Linked DNA regions of Homo sapiens: regions 1 and 2 are each linked to region 3. Evidence: fine-mapped expression QTL. A gene starts in region 3. Each other region holds a variant in brackets. All regions are shown on one strand. Distances are from middle to middle.

Evidence for each region. PIP is the estimated chance that this variant, and not a neighbour inherited with it, causes the effect. A credible set is the group of variants that fine-mapping cannot tell apart.
Region 1: its variant is the best candidate, but not a certain one, in a credible set for the expression of UBAP1L in transverse colon (GTEx, PIP 0.66).
Region 2: its variant is the best candidate, but not a certain one, in a credible set for the expression of UBAP1L in esophagus muscle (GTEx, PIP 0.90).

Annotation. Positions count from the first base shown.
Region 1 is chr15:65,167,736-65,172,927 of GRCh38, forward strand. The region is part of intron 3 of CLPX (caseinolytic mitochondrial matrix peptidase chaperone subunit X); the gene reads right to left. Among named protein-coding and RNA genes, the nearest start is that of CLPX, 15 kb to the right of the region's middle. The variant C/T (reference allele first, on the strand shown) is at 2,106.
Region 2 is chr15:65,546,635-65,552,050 of GRCh38, forward strand. HACD3 (3-hydroxyacyl-CoA dehydratase 3) reads left to right here. Exons shown (of 11, transcript NM_016395.4): 2 at 5,042-5,084. Among named protein-coding and RNA genes, the nearest start is that of HACD3, 19 kb to the left of the region's middle. The variant C/T (reference allele first, on the strand shown) is at 2,719.
Region 3 is chr15:65,113,110-65,118,109 of GRCh38, forward strand. UBAP1L (ubiquitin associated protein 1 like) reads right to left here and starts at 2,091. Exons shown (of 6, transcript NM_001163692.2): 1 at 2,041-2,091. It overlaps PDCD7 (programmed cell death 7), which reads right to left. Exons shown (of 5, transcript NM_005707.2): 5 at 4,270-5,000.

The sequences.
Region 1 (5,192 bases), 55 kb after region 3:
AAATTAGCTGGGCGTGGTGGCAGACACCTGTAATCCCAGCTACTCGGGAGGCTGAGGCAGGAGAATCGCTTGAACCCAGGAGGTGGAGGTTGCAGTGAGCTGAGATTGCGCCATTGCACTCCAGCCTGGGAGATAGAGCAAGACTCCATCTCAGAAAAAAATATATATATAATTATTTCATATCTTTCTTATTTTATCTTTACTCCACTAGTTCCTATTTCTCTGATCAAAAAACCACTAAGAAACTAACAAAATACTGCTTTCTCAGTCATACTGATTGGATTTAAAGATAATCATGCAGACTTTGAAAGCAATACAAAGGTAGTTTAAAGTGAGGATAAAAAGAGTCTCTTTTTTCTTTTAAAAATTTTTGGCCAGGCATGGTGGCTCAGGCCTGTAATCCCAGCACTTTGGGAGGCCGAGGGGGACAGATCACGAGGTCAGGAGATCGAGACCTGGCTAACACGGTAAAACCCTGTCTCTACTAAAAATAGAAAAATTAGCTGGGTGTGGTGGTGGGCGCCTGTAGTCCCAGCTGCTCGGGAGGCTGAGGCAGGAGAATGGTATGAACCCGGGAGGTGGAGCTTGCAGTGAGATGAGATTGCACCACTGCACTCCAGCCTGGGCGACAAAGTGAGACTCTGTCTCAAAAAAAAAAAAAAAAAAAAAAAAAAATTTGTGGATACACAGTGATGAGTTCATGTCCTTTGTAGGGACATGGATGAAGCTAGAAACCATCATTCTGAGCAAACTATCGCAAGGACAGAAAACCAAACACCGCATGTTCTCACTCATAGATGGGAACTGAACAATGAGAACACTTGGACACAGGGTGGGGAACATCACACACCGGGGCCTGTCATGGGGTGGGGGGAGGGGGGAGGGATAGCATTAGGAGATATACCTAATGTAAATGATGAGTTAACGGGTGCAGCACACCAACATGGCACATGTATACCTATGTAACAAACCTGCACGTTGTACATGTGTACCCTAGAACTTAAAGTATAATTAAAAAAAAAACTTTGCGGATACACAGTGGATGAATACATTTATAAGGATTTCTCAATTCCAATGGATCAGCTACAGTATATCCTATGTTAAAGGTGATTTATTTTTCTTTTCTCTTTTTTTTTTTTGAGACAGGGTATCGCTCTGTTGCCCAGGCTGAAGTGCAGTGGCGTGATCACTACTCACTGCAGTCTTGACCTCCTAAGCTCAAGCAATCCTCCCACCTCAGCCTCCCTGAGTATCCAGGACTACAGGCACACGCCACCACGCCTGCCTACTTTTTTTTTTTTTTTTTGAGATGGAGTCTTGCTCTGTCGCCCAGGCTGGAGTGCAGTGGTACAATCTCGCCTCACTGCAAGCTCCACCTCCCAGGTTCACGCCATTCTCCTGCCTTAGCCTCCCGAGTAGCTGGGACTACAGGCGCCTCTCGATCTCCTGACCTCGTGATCTGCCCGCCTCGGCCTCCCAAAGTGCTGGGATTACAGGCATGAGCCACTGCGCCCGGCCGATGCCTGCCTACTTTTAAAAATCTTCTGTAGAGACAGGGTCTCATGATGTTGCCCAGGCGGGTCTCAAACTCCTGGACTCGAGTAACCCTCCCACCTTGGCCTCCGAAAGTGCTTGGGATTACAGGCGTGACCCACTGAGGCCAGCCTACTCTTTCTTTTCAAAACATGGTTATAGGATGTTGGCGGGGCACAGTGGCTCACACCTGTAAACCCAGCACTTTGGAAGGCCAAGACGGGTGGATCACTTGAGCTTAGGAGTTCAAGACCAGCCTGGCCAACATGGTGAAACCCTGTCTCTACTAAAAATACAAAAACTAGCCGGGCATGGTAACTACCTGTAAACCCAGCTACTCAGCAGGCTGAGGCAGGAGAACTGCTTGAACCTGGGAGGCAGAGGTTGCAGTGAGCCGAGATGGTGCCCATCGTGCCCTCTTATTATAAACAAAACAAATAAACATAAAACAACACATGGTTATAGGATGTAGATATATGGATATATTTACTTTTTTTTTTTTTTGAGACAGAGTTTCGCTCTTGTTGCCCAGACTAGTGTGCAATGGTGCAATCTCGGCTTACTGCAACCTT[C/T]GCCTCGCCTCCAGGGTTCAAGCAATTCTCTTGCCTCAGCCTCCGAAGTAGCTGGGATTACAGGCATGTGTCACCACGCCCGGCTAATTTTGTATTTTTTAGTAGAGATGGGGTTTGACCATGTTGGTCAGGCTGGTCTCAAATTCCTGACCTCAGGTGATCCGCCTGCCTCAGCCTCCCAAAGTGCTGGGATTACAGGCATGAGCCACCGCACCCAGCGACTTTTTTTTTAAGAGCTGCTGTCTTGCTATGTTGTCCAGGCTAGCCTCAAATTTCTGTTCTCAAGGGATCCTCCCACCTCCCAAGTAGCTGGGTTTGGACATACATGCTTAACTCAGCCTAACCCTACTAATGGTAACCGGGGACCTCAGAAAGCAATTTGGTAGAGAATCTCTTATAGGTACAGGTGGCAAATACAAAGCTAGTATGTCTAAGTAATACATTTTTGTGTAACCCAACTAGAAAGAGAGAACTGCAGAGAAAAAAAAAAATTCATGGAATTTTTTTTCCTTTGGGAAAATTTTAAATATAAATATCTATCCACAGATTATAGGGAACACTGCACTAGCAAGCACACCTACGTCTTTACAAACTAATCTAAATGAAAAAAGTAGACAATTCCATATTAAAAAAACAACTTTAGGCTGAGCGGGGTGGCTCAGGCCTGTAATCCCAGCACTTTGGGAGGCCGAGGCGGGTGGATCACCTGAGGTCAGGAGTTTGAGACCACCCTGGCCAACATGGCGAAACCCTGTCTTTACTAAAAATACAAAAATTAGCCAGGTGTGGTGGCGGGTGCCTGTAATCCCAGCTACCTGAGAGGCTGAGGCAGGAGAATCCCTTGATGGTTACCTGGGAGGCGGAGGTTGCAGTGAGCCAAGACCACGTCACTATACTCCAGCCTAGGCAACAGAACTCTGTCTCAAAAACAAACAAAACCACTTCATTATCAATTCAATCAATTCTTGTGTTTCTGTTCTTCTTTTTTTTTTTTTTTTTTGAGACGGAGTCTCATTCTGTCACCCAGACTGGAGTGCAGTGGCACGATCTGGGCTCACTGCAACCTCCGCCTCCTGGGTCCAAGCAATTCTCCTGCCTCAGCCTCTGGAGTAGCTGGGACTACAGGTGCATGCCACCACACCCAGCTCATTTTTGTACTTTTAGTAGAGATGGGGTTTCACCATGTTGGCCAGGATGGTCTCGATCTTCTGACCTCATGAAACACCCACCTCAGCCTCCCAAAGTGCTGGGATTACAGGCATGAGCCACTGCGCCCAGCCATGTTTCTGTTCTTAAACACAAGACTAATTAAAAACACATTCTGGGCCGGCCAAGGTGGCTAACGCCTGTAATCCTAGCACTCTGGGAGGCTGAGGCAGGTGGATCACTTAAGGTCAGGAGTTCAAGACCAGCCTAGCCAACATAGTGAAACCCTGTCATTACTAAAAATATACAAATTATCCGGGCGTGTTGTCTTGTGCCTGTAATCCTAGCAACTGGGGAGGCTGAGGCACGAGAATTGCTTGAACCTGGAAAGCAGAGGTTGTAGTGAGCTGGGATCACACCACTGCACTTCAGCCTGGGCAATAGAGCGAGACTCAGTCTCAAAAAAAAAAAAAACATTTCGGATAAATTCTATTAGCAAATTTTAAGGAATAAGCGGTTTCATCCATGTTTCCTATTTGCTGATCACGTATAAATGCTTAAAGAAAAAGATCAAGCTATTTGAAGCATCTGTGACTAACACAAGCCTAAGTAAATAATCACCACTTCCCATCAATGGGAAAGATAGTTACTGCCTTTATAATGATGAGGCACTAGTTTACAATTGTTACTGATGGTAAACAGGGCAAGGATTAAAGGGCAGAGAAGCCGCTGATCTAGTTCAGGCAGTGTGACAGGAAAATCTGGCCTGAGAGCACAAGTACAAAATATTTCTCTAAGGAAATTAGATCAAAAGGAAAATGATTAAACACCAACAAATCACATCCCTCTTTGCTTATTGTTGAAAGGTTGCTTAAATTTGACTTGAATATTTGCAACACAATTTTACACTGACATATTTTCAACATATCCCTAAATTCAAGGATTCAATGTTATTTATCAAAATGCTATTTTGGGAAAAAAAAATACAAGCATTGCAATGCACTTTTTTGTTTTGTTTTGTTTTTTGAGACAGAGTTTCACTCTTGTTGCCCAGGCTGGAGTGCAATGGCGCGATCTCAGCTCACCGCAACCTCCGCCTCCCGAGTAGCTGGGATTACAAGCATGCGCCACCACACCCAGCTAATTTTGTATTTTTAGTAGAGATGGGGTTTCTCCATGTTGGTCAGGCTGGTCTCAAACTCCCAACCTCAGGTGATCCACCCGCCTTGGCCTTCCAAACGGCTGGCATTACAGGCATGAACCACCATGCCTGGCCAATGCATTTTTACTCCAAAAACAAGGGGCAAAAATCTAATTTTGTTAAGTTACCAGGAGATAAATTCTTTCCTTTAAACAGCTACTACAAGTATCCTATATTTCTTTACATAAAATGTTGTTGGTTTGGGAGGCTGAGGTGGGCGGATCACAAGGTCAGGAGTTCAAGACCAGCTTGGCCAAGATGGTGAAACCCCCATCTCTACTAAAAATACAAAAAAATTAGCCGGGCATGTTGGCAGGCGCCTGTAATCCCAGCTACTCAGGAGCCTGAGGCTGAGAACTGCTTGAATCCGAGAGGTGGAGGTTGCAGTGAGCCTCGATCACACCACTGCACTCCAGTCTGGGCAATAAGAGCGAAACTCCGTCTGGGGGGAAAGAAAAAGAAAGACAAAGGATTTAAATTGACACTTCTCCAAAGAAGACAGACAAATGGCCAATAAACCTAAGAAAAGATTAACATCATTAGTCATTAGGGAAATGCAAATCAAAACCACAGTGAGTCCCAGGAGGTAGCACAAAAATCCCAGCACTTTGGGAAGCCAAGGCAGGAGGATCACTTGAGCCCAAGAGTTCGGGACCAGCCTGGGCAACATAAATGAGACCCTGTCTCTAGGGTGGCATTTGCCTGTAGTCTCAGCTATTCAGGATGCTGAGGTGGGAGGA
Region 2 (5,416 bases), 430 kb after region 3:
CCCAGGCTGGAGTCCAGGCTGGTCCCAAACTACTGGCATCAAGTGATCTGCCTGCTTTGGCCTTCCAAAGTGCTGGGATTGCAGGTGTGAGCCACCATGCCTGGCCTAGTTTTTCAATTTTTTTGTAGATTTAAATGTTTTCAAAATAAAACATTGGGGTGAAAAGGATCACATTAAAAATACACAGAGTTTTGGGGTTCCCCGGCAGCCACCAGTGTGCTCAGTGATTTGCTCGAAGGATTCATGGGACTTAGTATATAATTGTACTCATGACTAAGGTTTGTTACAGCTGGAGAATACAGGACAGGATCAGTAAAGGAAAAAAAGCACAAGTGGAGTCTGGAGAAATCCACGTATAAGCCTCTTTATCATTCTTCCTCCTGTGAGGGGGTATATTTGAGCACACTCCACCAGCGACGAAAAATGCAATGACTTATGTATAACTTTTCTGCCCAGGGAAGCCCGTTAGTGATTGAGTTCCCAGGATTTTTTTTTTTTTTGAGACGGAGTCTCACTCTGTCACCGAGGCTGGAGTGCAGTGGCCTGATCTCGGCTCACTGCAACCTCCGCCTCCTGGGTTCAAGCAATTCTCCTGCCTCAGCCTCTTGAGTAGCTGGGATTACAGGCGCACGCCATCATGCCTGGCTAATTTTTGTATTTTTAGTAGAGACAGGGTTTCACCATATTGGTCAGGCTGGTCTCGAACTCCTGACCTCATGATCCACCCACCTTGGCCTCCCAAAGTGCTGGGATTACAGGCATGAGCCACCGCGCCCGGCCAAGTACCCATGATTTTTATTGGGGCTTGTTACTTAGGTAACCTCTGCCTAACATGTACCAAAATTTCAGGCTCCTAGAAGGAAAGTTGATATTCACCATAAATCACATTGTTTGTAGGCACAGTTTAGGAACATTGGACCACCCTTATTAGTTAGGTGATGGAGGAAAGCCGAGTTTCTAGATAGATGCCAGCCAAAGGCTGATCTTGGAAGCAGGCCCTTTTAAAGACTGCAGCCTCAGGCTTGCTATATTAACTCTTCTGCACACATACTAATCACATAAATTTGAAGATAAATACTAATGATTTGAATGAGAAAGGAAACTCTTGTCTAAAGGGTTAGATAGCAGGTAGTTTATTGTGAACTCTTTGTAGTTCTGCCAGAGATTCTGAAAATGGGATGAATTGATTTCAGTTCACTTAACAGTTATTGAGGCATTAGGTATATGGAAATGAATAAGACACAGTCCCTGCCATCAAAGAAGTCAGGTCAAGAGGGGCAGTTAAATGATCAACAATGATTGTGGAACAGTGTGATAAGTATTATAGTAAAGGTGAATACAAAGTAGGAAGGAAACTGTTGATTCTGATGTTAGGGTGAGGAGGAGAGAACAGGAATTAACATTTGACCTGAACTTTGAAAGAGAAGTAGTGTTCAACAGGCATGGAAACTTAGATGGGCACTTTAGTCAGAGGAAAAAAAGCAACTGGAATGTGAATTCTTACTAGTTGCCAGGGTCTGTGTGTGCTATTATAACTTAATCCTTACAGCAGACCTGTGATGTAAGTGATTTTATTGTTATTTTTAAAATTATGGCTGGGCATGGTGGCTCATGCCTGTAATCCCAGCAGTTTGGTAGGCTGAGGTGGAGGATTACTTGAGCCCAGGAGTTCGGGACCAGCCTGGGCAACATAGTGAGACTTGTCTCTGCAAAAAATTTAAAAAAGATATTAGCCAGGCATGGTGATGTGGACCTGTAGTCCCAGATACTTGAGAGGCTAAGGTGGGAGGATCCTTGAGCCTGGGAGATGGAGGCTGCAGTGAGCCGAGATTGCACCACTTCACTCCAGCCCTGGGTGACAGAGGGAGATTCTGTCTCAAAAAAAAAAAAAAAAAAAGATGATTAAGATGATTTGAAAATTTTCGTATTCCCTTTTCCCTCTTCACTCCTTTTTTTGAGACAGGGTCTTAGTCTGTCATCCAGGCTGGAATGCAGTGGTGCAATAAAAGCTCACTGCAGCTTCGACCTCCTGGGCTCAAGTTGTCCTCCCAGCTTAGCCTCCCAAGTAGCTGGGACCGCAGGCATGTGCCACCACACTTGGCTAATTTTTTTATTTTTGTAGAGACGGTCTATGTTGTTCAGGCTGGTCTTGAACTCCTGGGCTCAAGTGATCTTCCTGCGTAGGCCTCCCGAAGTGTTGGGATTATAGGCATGAGCTACCTTGCCCAGCCACTCTCTTTCTCTTTTTATTTTTTAAAAGAATTAGAGACAGGGTCTGACTACTTGCTATGTATGTTCCCCTAGCTGCATTTGAACCCCTGGGTTCAAGTGATCCTCCCACTTCAGCCTCCCCGGTAGCTGGGACTATAGGTGCATGGCACCGGGCCTGGCTGTTCACTCCTCCTTTCATAAGCAAAGGCACAGTTTCTTTTCTTGTAAGAGATGGGCTAGGTTGTGTAGATTGAGCTTTCTAATAAAAACAACTAAAAGTGTTGAATAAAAATGTCTTAAAAACATCGAAAAGTTAACACGGTAGAAATGAAATTGGGAACTCAGATAAGCTGAACGTGGAAACTGCTTTTGCCTTGCGAACATTTGCTCAACTAAGTGAACTTGAACTTTGGTTTTGACAGCCCAACAGGGCGCAGGCAATAGAAGTAAGGTCAAACCCAGCCTGGTGCGGTGGCTCACAGCTGTAGTCCCAGCACTTTGGGAGGC[C/T]GAGGTGGGCGGATCACAATGTCAGGAGTTTGAGACCAGCCTGACCAATATGGTGTAATCCCATCTCTGCTGGGAAAAAAAAAAAAAAAAAAAAAAAATTAGCTGGGTGTGGTGGCGCACACCTGTAATCCCAGCTGCTCGGGAGGCTGAAGCAGAAGAATCGCTTGAGCCTGGGAGGTGGAGGTTGCAGTGAATTGAGATGGCGCCACTGTACTCCAGCCTGGGTGACAAAGCGAGATTCCATCTCAAAAAAAAAAAAAAAAAAAAAGATCAAAGCCCAAGACCCACCAAAGGTGTAACATGTAATAGGAAATCTTCTCCATAAACCGTATTTCAGAGAGGACTATACACTTAGGGTTAGGATGAACTAGAAATAAGCCCATTCCATCTGCCTGTCTCCAGTTGCCTTAACACTTAGCTAAGTATTAATAGAAGAAAAGGTCCTTGAGAAGTTAAAACTGTAAGTTGGCTCTCAAAGGTTATGTAGCCCAAATTCACACAATTTAGGAGAACCAAAACTCTAAACTTGAGAACCCTCAAGCCATGCATTTAGTTTAAAGTGGCCTCAACTGGTAGGACCCCTAGGTCCCTGGCAGAAGCAAATGCAGATCGATCCTCTGTAGTAGCTATGCTGATATCACACAAAATAGACTTTTAGGCACAAGTGTATTTTTAGAGATAGAAAGGGCAGTTCATAATGATAAGGTTTCAGTTTACCAGGAAGATACAACAATATTAAGTTATATGCATCTAGGCTGGACACAGTAGCTCATGCCTGTAATCCCAGCACTTTGGGAGGCCGAGGCAGGCAGATCACCTGAGGTCAGGAGTTCAAGACTAGCCTGGCCAACATGGTGAAACCTCGTCTCTGCAAAAATACAAAAATTAGCCGGGCATGATGGCAGTCGCCTGTAATACCAGCTACTCAGGAGGCTGAGGCAGGAGAATCGCCTGAACCTGGGAGGCAGAGGTTACAGTGAGCCGAGACTGAGCCATTGCACTCCAGCCTGGGTGAATTTTTCAAAAAAAAGAAAGAAAATATTAAACAAGTTCATATCAGATAAAATGGATAAATTCCAAGAAATAAAGACAGTTTCTATAAAAGAGATAGAAAACCTGGATAGCCCAATAACCATTAAATACATGGATTCAGTAGTCAAAAATCTTCCCACAGGGAAACTTGCAGGTCTAAATGGCTTCACCTGGAAGTTCTACCAAGCATTTAAATAAATAATTGCAGTTAATAATTATTTGTTAATCTGTTGCTACATAACAAATCACCCAATATGTAGTGGCTTAAAGCAACAATAGTCGTTTATTGTCTCTCACAGTTTCTGTGGGTTAGGACTTCAGGAGGGGCTCTGTTGGGTTGTTCTGGCTTGGAATCTCATGAGGTTGTGGTCAGATGACAGCTGTAGTTGGGGAACACAGAAAGCTAAGCCCACAGAAGAAAAACAAACACCGTGACACTGGGAAGGAGCTGCCTCTTGCTTGTTAACCTTGAGCTGGAAGTAGGAGTTGGGTTGTTTCTCATCCACTGGAAAAAGTGTTAAGTAGTTTCACTTTACATTATGATGCTAAATTGAAGGTATGTAGCAACTTCTGGGAATCAATGAGCAGTCTGGAGAATTTTGACCTCTCCCGAGTCTTGTTTCCTTTGGGGGTTAAGAGAGTCTGGAGCCTCTAAGTTAGAGACACAGGCACAGCGTGTTTCATTTTCATTCACCACCTGCAATCCTCTGCCCTTCCCTCTACCTGTTGGAATTAATTTATCATTCAGGTTGCAGTACAGGTCTCACCTTTGGTGAAGCTTTTCCCCACCACTCTATTCCTGTTGTGCTCTCTCTCTCTCCTAACTCTGCTAACACTTACTGCCTTTTACCACCCTTTTCGTCTTGACCATATGTTTCTTAATAACTATTTGATATCTTCTCACAGAAAGTGCCTCATCTGTCCCACTGGATCCTCTGTTCTACAGCTCAGGGGTTGAGTCCTGGAGATCTCTGTATTCCCGTGTCATATCTCACATAGCACCTTGCATGACTGGCCATTTTCAGAATGGACTAATTCAGTACTTGATTGTTTGCACAGTTAGAGCAGGTTAGGGTCCTTCTTGCAGGAGTCTGCAGTCTTAGATAGGTACAGACAGACATAGAGAAAGCCTACAGAGATGTGAATAAATGACTAAATATATTTCTGGGGGAGGCACAGAGTAGGAGTTTGAGTCCTTATGGGAGAGGGATGAGGGGAAGAAGCCCCTTGTTTAATCTCATTTTTTCTCTTCATTAAAATGCCTTCTTGCATCCTTGGTCTCTTTTCACAGAACCCTGCCATCAGCATCACTGAAAACGTGCTGCATTTCAAAGGTCAGTATCCCAGCAAATGCTCCCATCTCTATACACAGTTAAGGAGGTGTGGTGGTGGTTTCCCTTTTTTAAAAAAATGTATTTGTCTTACTTGTTTTTTGCTGATGTTCACGCCTCTGATCCTCATGAGGTAAGCTAAATTGTTTTGAAATATATGATTAGAAAAGTCAAAGAATTGGTTTAAAATCCTGTTTCCCCCATGGAGAGGCAGTAGATACAGTGAAGGAAAAAAAAAAAAAGAATCCTGGGTTAGAAATCAGGAGACGTGTCTTCTAGCTCTAATTCTGCCGCTATCTTGGACAAGTTATTGACTTCTCTGGACCTGTACAATG
Region 3 (5,000 bases):
CCTGTAATCCCAACACTTTGGGAGGCAGAGGTGGGAGGATTGCTGGAGCCCGTGAGTTAAAGACCAGCCTGGGTAACATAGCAAGACCCCTTCTTTAGAAAACAAAACGAAACAAAACTAAGGCACTCTCCTACTTAAAACTCTTCAATGGTTCCTGGCTGTTTTCAAAATAAAAATTAAACTTCTGAAGGCTTGCAGTGTCTGGCCCGTTTCCTCTCCTCCCATCTTACTCCAGTCATGCTAGCCTTCAACTGCCATGGTCTCTCAGTCCCCACAGAACCTTTGCATATCCTGTTCTGGATACTTGCTAAGTTCTTCCCTGTTGCTTCCCCACAATTAATTAAAAGCTGCTCAAATGCCAGGCACAATGGCTCACATCTGTAATCCCAGCACTTTGGGAGGCCAAGGTGGGCAAATCACTTGAGGTCAGGAGTTCGAGACCTGCCTGGCCAACATGGCAAAACCCCCTCTTTACTAAAAATACAAAAATTAGCCTGGTGTAGTGGCACACGCCTGTACTCACAGCTACTCAGGAGACTGAGACGAGAGAACTGCTTGAACCTGGGAGGCGAAGGTTGCAGTGAACCAAGATCACGCCACTGCACTCCAGCCTGGGCGACAAAGCGAGAGTCTGTCTCAAGAATAAAAAGAAAAGAAAAGAAAAGAAAAAGCTGTTCATTCTTCAGAGCTCAGCTGAAACATCACTTCCTCAAAAAAGCTTGCCCTGACTCTCAAACTTGGTCAGGTCTACCTAGCACAGTGGCCTTTACAAAGTTTTTTATTTTTTACTTTTTTGAGATGAAGTCTTGCTCTGTTGCCCAGGCTAGAGTGCAGTGGCTCGATCTCAGCTCACTGCAATCTCTGCCTCCCAGGTTCAATAGATTCTCCTGCCTCAGCCTCCCGAGTAGCTGGGATTACAAGCACCTGCCACCACGCCCGCTAATTTTTGTATTTTTAATAGAGATAGGGTTTCACCATCTTGGCCAGGCTGGTCTTGAACTCGTGACCTTGTGATCCACCTGCCTTGGGCTCGCAAAGTGCTGGGATTACAGGCATGAGCCACCGCGCCCAGCCTTTTTTTTTTTTTTTTAACTATGACCCATAGTATACTTTTATTTCCTAGCATACACATATGTAAACTGAATAATGATTCTTACCCTTACTATATGATACATATTTCCTATTATTTCAACTAAATGTGTCACAGAACGCTTTTGAAGAAAAATCCTAATTCATAATCTCAGAACCATGTCTTTCTTTCAAAGCACTCAGCATATTTTTTATGATTATTGGGTTAATATCTACCTTCCTCATTGCCTGTATTCTGTATGAGGTTAGGGAGTATTTGGCATTTTGCTTAGCTTTAATAGGCACTTAAACATTTGGAATGAAATATATAAATTGGCTGATAAGTACTTTTCCTTGTAGCACTTATCACAATTGTCTCTAATGACTCTGTTATAATCATTAAGCTTCTTCACTCTAAACTCCAGGAGGTCAGGAATCCTGTCTGTTCACCCCTTCTTACATCCCTAGCACCTAACCACAGTACCTGGAAAATGGTAAATAAAAAATCATTTCCCATAGAACATAATTCAAATTCTGGTATCCAGACTGTGGCCAGCATGAATTAACAAAGCTGAGGAAAGTGTCCACTGTTCTACACAGTTATGCACTCTAACACCACTTGCCTCAGAGACCTTAATCTTTGCTTTGGAGGCTATGAAAAACCAAATTTATTCCAAAAGGCAAATGAACTCTGCAATGGAAACATACTCTTCATGTGTGGCCAGATACAGGAAGCCAGGAACTACTATGTGGATTCACAAAAAGGTAAAGAGCTCATCATATGGAAATAGCTTATAGGTTCTAAGCATTACAAAAAATCTGGGACAAACAGGTGGCAAAAAACAAATTTAGTTGATAATGTCTCATTTAATCACTATTCCATAAATCACTACTATTTCAGAATGTTCACATTCCTTTCATATATTGCATATTATACTTATTTAAATGGAATAAGATATACTTTGTACTTACCTTGTAATTACCAGGAGAACTTCCCTGCAGACAAAGCGTGTATAAATGAATAGCTACAACAGATGGCATAAGCCTAAGCTTCTTGTTACAAATGTCACATGGGCATAGGAGCATGAATGGTTTTATAGAGTGATTAAGTTGGTTGGCTTGTAGCAGCAAATTCTTTGACATCATAAACTCAGCCACTTGGGCTAAATACCCTTAGTATTTAAGAACTAATCTCTTTCTCTCATAGCTTTCTAATCTCTGTATTTACCGAATTTATTAAAAACAAATGCTTTTGTACAGTTTTTCTTTTTAAAAGTATTCCAGTTAATAATTGAAGAATGACAGAATTAAACTATCACTATTTTTGAGTCCCCTCCCCATCAATGAATGAATCTGGGTCTTATCAGTGGCCGCTAACATCACAAAAAAAGCCAAGACATCAGTGCCTCCTGACTGGAAGTACACATTATGTCTGTGAAGTATTCCTGCCAGAAAATTCCAATCTGAATGTGATCAAGCCTCTAGATCAGCACTATCCAATTGAAACGTGATCCACATATGTAATTGCACATCTCAACTCAAATAGATCACATTTCAAGTGCTCAACAGCTGAATGTGGCTACTATATTGGACAGTACAGCTCTGTTTAACTACTAAATTATAGGACATACGAGAACAGAGGGACATGGCATCACAAGGATGCAAACAACAGTGTATGGAGTCTATTCAGATCCTAATTTGAACAAAACGTAAAACATTTACGAGAGGGCAATTTGAACAATGATTGGATATTTGTGATATTCAGGAGTTGTTACTCCTTTATTTAGATGTGATAATGGCCCTGTAGTTAGATTTTTTTTTTAATCACTTAAAGCTACATAATGAAATATTTACAGATGAAGTAATTTGATGCCTGAGATTTGCTTCAAAATAATCCAGGGTGAGTGGAGGATGTATAGATGAAACAAGATTGGCCATAAGCTGATAATGATTTGAAGCTGGATGATGGGTACATGGAAAAAAATCATTGTACTATTCTCTTTACTTTTGAATGTATTTGAAATTTTCCCCAAGTTAAAAAAAGAAAAAAAAAGACTGTGGGATAACATTACAATAACACTGCTCATATTCTTGAAAGTACAATTCATTAAAGATACTACCATGAGTCTCTCTAAACCTGAAAGAACCAGTGGCTACTGCCACCACCACTACACACAGGTAATAAACCAGGAAAATCTTACAAATAAAAACCGAACAAGAGTAATGCTCATGTTTTGTTTTGTTTTTTAATTTTCTTTGTTTTGAGACAGAGTCTCGCTCTATTGCCCAGGCTGGAGTGCAATGGTGTGATCTCAGCTCACTGCAACCTCCGCCTCCTGGCTTCAAGTGATTCTCCTGCCTCAGCCTCCCAAGTAGCTGGGATTACAGGCGCCTGCCACCATGCCTGACTAATTTTTGTATTTTTAGTATAGATGGGGTTTCACCATGTTGGCCAGGCAGGTCTTGAACTCCTGACCTCAAGTGATCCATCTACCTTGGTCTCCCAAAGTGCTGGGATTACAGGCGTGAGCCACCACACCCAGCCTGATCACTTTATTAAAACCTTGCAAGGGCCAAAGGAAAAAGGGATTTTTTTTTTCTCCATCTGTGGCTAAATGCCACCTTCTTGGGTTCTGCTGTCCGAGTTTTCCTGAGTCCCTGCAGCACATTCCCTGCCCTCACAGCAGATATCTTAGTGGCAAGGCTGTCCAGACACCAAACACACATCGTACAATTCACCTTATTTCTACTCTTCCTGCATCTCATCAGAGAGCAAATGGTGGAGATATCTAACAAAAAGGCACACAGGATTGTGGAGCTCTATGAGGGTAATCATATCAGATTTTAAGATTTATAAGCGTAGACATACATTTTGGAGACATGTGGCCCTCATTCCCTATCTGTTGACTCTATATAATGTATAAATTAATGCAAATTAAACAACAGAAAAGGGACAAAGCCATTAGTATCTTGCACCCAAAAGCTTCCAACTACAGTACGTAACATTATTTCCAAAATTGATGGTATCCTTACCAATCCAGACTTGGATTTTGCAGATAAAGTTTAGCATTTAAGATTCAAATTCCTGTAACAAATGCCTGCTTAATAAATTTGAATTTTTGAATGAAAATATGTTTCATCAATGTGAAAGTGTGTGTTAAGTGATTTGGAAGGCAACAAATTGGCAGCAAAGGCACAAACTAAAAAATAAAAATGATTTTTATTTAGTTTTTTGGAAATATAACAAAATAATTGGCAAAAACCAAACCAAAACAGAACCAAAAAAATGACATGTTATATGAGTGATCATCTCCAAGCACAACAGCATTTATTAATGAATATAAAAAATAAATTTTACTTTTTTTTTTTTTGAGACGGAGTCTTGCTCTGTCTCCCAGGCTGGAGTGCCGTGGCGCGATCTCGGCTCACTGCAAGCTCTGCCTCCTGGGTTTTACACCATTCTCCTGCCTCAGCCTCCCCAGTAGCTGGGACTACAGGTGTGCACCACCTACGCCCAGCTAATATTTTTTTGTATTTTTAGTAGAGACAGGGTTTCACCGTGTTAGCCAGGATGGCCTTGATCTCCTGACCTCGTGATCGGCCCGCCTCGGCCTCCCAAAGTGTTGGGATTACAGGCGTGAGCCACTGTGCCCGGCCAAATTTTACTATTTTTATTTGCTTTTTCCCCTAGATTTGACTACATGGATAGTTTTAGAAGCTTGAGTTCCTAAGATAATTCCATAGCTACACTGGCTCCTACAATGTGACTGAGTGAGGTTAGGGAAATATCCTTGGGGATTCTGAACAACTAGACCCTTAGAAACTTAAAAATAACAGGTGCTTTCATTAGGATCCTTCTAACATGGAAAAAATACAGCCATTGTCCATTAAAATACAATCCAATTTGGGTACTCTTCAGGTTTTCTAAGTTC